2 separate regions of the Homo sapiens genome follow, and region 2 is reported to be linked to region 1. Evidence: microRNA targets listed by miRTarBase, many of them from high-throughput screens and not tested one by one. Region 1 holds a microRNA gene; the other region holds the end of a gene's coding sequence.
What was found. Region 1 holds the annotated microRNA hsa-miR-3919 (GCAGAGAACAAAGGACUCAGU, at 1,419-1,439, opposite strand). A microRNA usually pairs through its seed, bases 2 to 8, with sites in the 3' UTR of a target mRNA and lowers its output. Matches are read on the target gene's strand: a 7mer-m8 pairs with bases 2 to 8, a 7mer-A1 pairs with bases 2 to 7 and ends in A, and an 8mer does both.

Region 1 (3,185 bases):
AACTTTCAAGGAACATGTAATTACCATGCTATATGAAATTAGAGACCAAAGGAAAATCTAGGAAGCTTTTCATTTTACGAAGCTTGCACAGCCCTGATTCAAACTTGAAAGAAATACAAACTACAGGTGAATTTCGTTTTTAAGCAGAGATGTAAAAACTTAAACAACATACCATAAAATAGAAATAAAAAGCAACATATAAAGAACTACCCGTTAAAACCAAACAGCAATACCACAATGCAAGAACAGACCATAACTCATCGCATCAACTATGGATAATAAGACAACCTATTTTGCTTAGGTTGAATTTTCTAATCAATACAATAAGACTTTTGGAAAGGAAGAGGCAATTTAGTATTATTTGCAGTTGAGAAAATTACATGGTTAACAACCTCGAAAGAATCCACTAAAAAAATTCTGAAGTACTATTAAGAGATTTTAATAAATTGAAAAGATACAAATCAATACAACAAAAAGCCATCGCTTCCTATATTATAGTAATAACCAATTAGAGGTGGAACAAAAGGAAGGAAATAGCCAGGCGCGGTGGCTCACGCCAAGATCGCGCGCCATTGCACTCCAGCCTGAGCAACAAGAGCGAAACTCCGTCTCAAAAAAAAAAAAAGGAAATAATCCATAATCCATGTACATAGGAACAATCATAGTAAGTAAAGTAAAAAATATGCCGGGCATGATGGTTCACGCCTGTAATCCCAGCAGTTTGGGAGGCCAAGGCGGGCGGCGGATCACCTGAGGTCAGGAGTTCGAGACCAGCCTGGCCAACATGGTGAAACCTCGTCTCTACTGAGAATACAAAAATTAGCCGGGCATGGTGGCATGGGCCTGTAATCCCAGCTACTCGGGAAGCTGAGGCAGGAGAATCACTTGAACCCAGGAGGCGGAGGTTGCAGTGAGCTGAGATCATACCACTGCATTCCAGCCTGAGCGACAGAGTGAGACTCCGTCTCAAAAAAAATAAAAAATATAAAACATATGAAATTTCAAATCTTTCCTGATATCTATATCTATTCGTGTTCTTATGCATATTTAGGTCCTTATCAATATTTATTTATCTACACAGCGTTCCTAGATGGTAAGAACAAATTTGCAAAGGTATCAGTTCTTATATTAGTTTACAGATTTGATGCAATTGCTATTAAAGTCTCTAAATAATTTCTTAACTATACAATTGTAGAGTTTATCTGGAATGAGTCTGACCATCCAAGAACATGAAAATATATGAAGTGGAGAATTCCCTGCTAGATATTAAAATTCATCATATAAATGTAATATTTAAGACAGTAAAATATAGGTACTAGAATAGACATGTGAAACCATGTCTATTCATGAAGGTAGTTCAGAAACAGATTCTAATGGATTTATTTTTAACATATGGTAAAGATTCCTGAGCACCATTTACTGAGTCCTTTGTTCTCTGCTACGAACTACTACAAACTAGTAGAGAACAAAGGACTCAGTAAATGGTGCTCAGGTAAAGGGTTAACTACTTGGAATAAAATAAGACTATTATTTCTCATTATGCCATACACCAAAATTTCAATGAACTTAAGACAAATGATAAAGTTGAAACCAGTTTTCAAAAAACACAAAAATATATAGGTGAATGGGATACTAAGTAGGTTTTATTTCCAAAAAAAAATTTAAAATTCTAAAGATTGAAATATGCAATCTAGGAAAATATATCTCACATATACGAATGCAAAAGCTTAATAATATATACGTAATATTTAACACATAAAATCTCAGTGAAACAATAGACAATTCACAGAATAAGTCAACATGGCCACAAAATGTGAAAATGTTAAGCCTCAACAACTAAAAAAGAAATTCAGGTTTTAAACACAGGCCACTTTCAATCTATTAAATTAACAGAACTAGCACAACAGTTCTAGGGATGTAACAATATATATCAATATCCTTAAAAATGTTATATAAATTTTTATTATACTTACAGTAATCTCTTGTAAGGAAACAAAAATATGAAAATATATGAACACTCAATGTTGACATTGATAACTATAGTGGCATAGTTCAATAAATTATATGTCTATGTGATTTCATATTACTCATTCACACTGTACCATAAAACTTTAAGAAATTTTAATGACACAGAAATTAAAATATTAAGTTTTTAAAAGCACAGTGAAAAATGTTGAAAATATGTTTAAGAGCTATATTTATATATATTCATACTAATACCTAGTGTATACACATTTCGGAATCTCCAAGGAAATTCACTGAAATGTTAACAATAGGGGTCTTTGTTGGATTAATGGTGAGATATATTTTTTAACATTTCATATTTTCTAAAATGAATATACACATTACAACGATAAATGAATAGGCATTGCTATAAAATGAGACAGAGAATATTACAATGTAGTTTAGAAACAATGCCATTCAAAATGTGTTGACTGAAAAAAAAGTAACCGTCCATTATTGATAGATTTCATTTATACAGAAGCCTCATTTCCTGTCAGTTTTTGATAAATTAGTGATCACTGTACTTTGCTCTAAAATGTAAATAGCTCCCTTCTTCCACTGACACAGCACAGATTTGTAGGTCTTCATGAAAATACAAAATGTACATACATTAAGAAGTGTAAGCACATTCATTCAAAACTATACTTTTTAGCTCTTGACACTGAAAATTTATCATCTTTTAATATATAAAGCATATTATTTTTTAAATATATGTGCATATGTGTTTTAGGCGCATATGTGGAATCCTATGTATTTGAAAATAATTCTTGTCCAAATAAAGTAAACCACTTAGAATATTTCGGTGTAATTATGATCACATAGCTTAAACATTAATTACAGGGAATGAATAAATGTTTCCCCAGATTCTAGCAGGTCTTCCTGCCTTTCTCTTCCTTCCAAAATCCCAAAATGAAGTTCCAAGAGGATGTATTTCTTTTTCCTAGCTTCTAATTAGCCCAGTCTTTGGTTTAGTTGGCAAGGGCGACTTTTGCATAAGCAATAGCTCTCTTTCAAAAAAGACTGATGTGGGAGATTGTGAAAGACCTATAAAGGTCCTGTGATCTTCAGTAGGGTCCATCCAAGCACCCAAACAGAAGCCTCCACAGCCACGATTGCCCCACATGTCACATAGGGAATGTATTTAACACATGCAATCGTGGATTACTCCCTTCCCATCATCC
Region 2 (3,185 bases), not on the chromosome of region 1:
CAGCAGTAGACCAAGGGTTGGCCTGAGTGGATTCTGCCAGTTTAGCTCAATCCAGAGTCAGGCCCTGGAGCGCTAACCGAGCGTGACCTGCCAGCCCGTGAGTCAGTGAGTGTCTGGCGGAGTGACAAGCCCCATGTGGCATTTTTGCTGAGCTGACAGCCAGCGTATGCAACCTAGTCCAGTCCACCCTGCCCCAGGGGAGGGGTTGTGTGTGACACTCTGACCTCAATTTAAAGATAGGACAAATGACACAGCCCCTGAGTTGGCCCTGGCTAAATATTATACATCACACGTAGTGACAGCTGCTCCTCCTAGAAACCAATTTACAGCCAATTTAGTCATTTGGCTGTAAGAATGCTCAACCACATGAGAGGATAGAAAGGCATCTCTTCTAATGTTTTCTTCTGTGTGCGTCTGTCATCACTGCAAATATTGTTTAGTCTACTTCTCAAGAGAATAGGAAAATACACCTGTATCCTTAAATCCCAGAAAATATGAACTCTAATGTAAGAAACAAAAACCCCAAACAAACACAAACACACACTTAAATACATAATTCTGATTTGGAAGGCTTCAAGTTCAAGACAGAGCTAACTGTTTGACAAAGAATTCAATTTCTAATCCACTCTTTCCAAATAGGCTTAGTTCCCAAATGAGACAAAATATGAATAGTTAAGATGCCTAATGCACATTCAATTCCAGTTTTCGTTTCTCCTCTGTATCTTGGCCATCACCTTTCTGGGTGTGCAAAGAAACCATACACCTTGGTTTGTCGTGTTAGTCATAGGCACATTTTGTGTTAGAGTTCCTGCATGACAGTCCTTCCGTCTTGCTGGGTACTCTGATATTTAAAAATGTTCTATGCACCTTGGGGAGAAAGAAATGGCCCTTTTTGGAGCCTCACCTGTGAATTGCATTGTTCTGCTGCCCCTCAGGCCCTCTCTGCATCCTGGTCACCTCATAAGTGAGGATGAGTTTTCTTAGTCAATGCAGATCATATTTTAAATCATTTCCATGCCCAGTAGGTTGTAGATTTCTGACAAAAAAGGGTTAGGAAGCAAAGTGCACTAAAGTGTTATTTCCTAATTTAGCACAATCATTCCTACAGGGTTGACTCATCCTCCGACTCTAGAGCTAAGAGTGACAGGTGTGCTCCTTCGCTGCACAGTCATGTGATAAATTCATTCATTTCCCCACAGTGAAAATCCAAAACATGCTCTCCACTCCCATTTTTCACCAGTAACAGTTGCCCACAAGTATTTAGGCCATCCAAAAATCTGGTTTGGCAACCAGAGCAGAGAACAGGGCTCCAGGCAGGTTGTTTAGTAAGGGCTCCAGGTGCTCACATTCATGCCTGAAGACATCTAGGTTCTGTTGAGATTTAAGTGTGGGACTCTGCAGTTGGGAAAGTCAGTGATTCCGCTCTTCACTTCCTTGTCTTAGATAATTCAGGATATGCCGTATTCTGATAGGTACCTGTGTCTAACACTGATGGGATACAGAAAGGAAACCATGTCAGTATATTTTTTAAAAAGGTGTTTCCCTGAAATGTTTGGAATTCTTTTCAATTAGAACTGTGTGTGAAGGTCTTGTTTAAGCTCTCATACACACTGGGCTGATCATGACAATTGTCTGGGTCTCAAGGCCTATTTCAGAGTTTCTACTGCAAAGATCTGGTGGCGATTCCTCTGTGTCCTCCTCTCAGTGTCTCCGTGTCCTTCCTTCTCCTTCTGAGGACTTCTGTGGTCGTCTTGTTCTCCCCACTCAATGTCCTATACTCTTGCATCTGGGTTTACTCATCCTCTGACTCTAGAGCTAAGAGCGACAGGTGTGTTCCTTCGCTGTGCAGGCATGTTATAAATTCATTCATTTCCCAACAGTGAAAGTCCAAAATGTGCTCTGAAACAAACGTGGGTTCTAATGTAAGTGGATGCCAAAGGCCCAGCAGTCTGGATGTTGGGAAGGGAGTATTCAGAGCCTGACCACGGCTGGGAGTCCTGAAGGGGTTCTACCACCACTCTGACCTGTGGGGTGGCCCCATGTCAGACAGAGGCAGAGAGACGTTTAGAATATATGCAGAAAGGCTATGTTTCTTTTCTTTCTTTACAGAACGAGAAGGGCGGTGGAAGAAGGAATTTTTCGCATCTGTATCTGAGTCTGCAGTGGAACAAGGAAAGGCGCGGGTTTGGGTTGGCTGCCCATCGGCCGCCATGCACTGAGTGGTGTGGCCAGCCATGCAGCAGGTGTGGGGGTGAGGGGCGCCTGGACACGGCGGCAGGACTGGGCCGAGTGCACCTGGAGAGGGTGCGGAAGACTCTTCCAGGGCATCAGTTGGTTTGCCCTGCTGGAAATGTGGCTAAGAGGTTCAAATAAATGTTCTCAGGTTGACCACCCCGATAGAGAATTTTGTGATTTCACTGCAATCAAGAAGTTTATGCCAATTTTACACACAAAACAGGAATCAAAGCAGGAGAGCAACCTGCCTACAGTGAAGTCTGCATGTGGCCCGTTGGACTTAACCTCTGAGTTAACTCAACAGGAAGCAAGTGTGCCCTGCTCCAATTACACAGGATGGGCCTCTCACGCAACATAAAACTCCTTTCCCTTTCTCCCAGGACAACTAGTACTGATGTTTAAATATTGGTGAAACATAATGTTTTTAATTTCACACCTCACAGAGCACAGTTGAATGCTTCATAACGACATAAACAAAAGTTAGGCTAAGCACTGCAGACGAGTTGGGAGGGCAAAGATAGCTTCCCCTGTGGTCTGCACTCCAGGTTTGCGAGGGAATATGTAACTAACAAACTGCTTGGCTAAGGCCACAGAAATGTGTTTCCTGGTGTTTTGGCTGCTGACGCCAGTCTTCTCTGACAAAGATGTGTTAACACTGGGTGCAACAAACTGAATCTCTTTCCTAAGATCAGTCAGGAAAATTCATGTCTTATTTCTTCCTGGATTTCTTTTTGGTGGTGTCATAAGCACGGATGACTTCTTCCTGACTAACAGCTCCGTGTTCTTCTTGAGAAAAAGCATACCCATCTGAAAGTGAAGCACACAGGAGAAACTGGTTAACAGGAGAATTGGGGGAGCACACTAGGTTTAAAATAAGCTGCTTTTTTTTGGCAGCGTGCGGGTGAGTGCGACATCTGGCCTCCTTAGCCTTGGATAGGTGGAGGCTTGAG

Region 2: miRTarBase lists ATP8A2 as a target of hsa-miR-3919. Seed matches in the 3' UTR shown: 7mer-m8 at 1,296-1,302.

What each region holds. Positions count from the first base shown.
Region 1 is chr3:159,280,954-159,284,138 of GRCh38, reverse strand. MIR3919 (microRNA 3919) reads right to left here and starts at 1,493; the gene lies at 1,405-1,493. The region is part of intron 4 of IQCJ-SCHIP1 (IQCJ-SCHIP1 readthrough); the gene reads right to left. The region is part of intron 1 of SCHIP1 (schwannomin interacting protein 1); the gene reads right to left.
Region 2 is chr13:26,019,745-26,022,929 of GRCh38, reverse strand. ATP8A2 (ATPase phospholipid transporting 8A2) reads right to left here. Exons shown (of 37, transcript NM_016529.6): 37 at 1-3,042. The coding sequence ends at 2,945. Among named protein-coding and RNA genes, the nearest start is that of SHISA2, 31 kb to the left of the region's middle.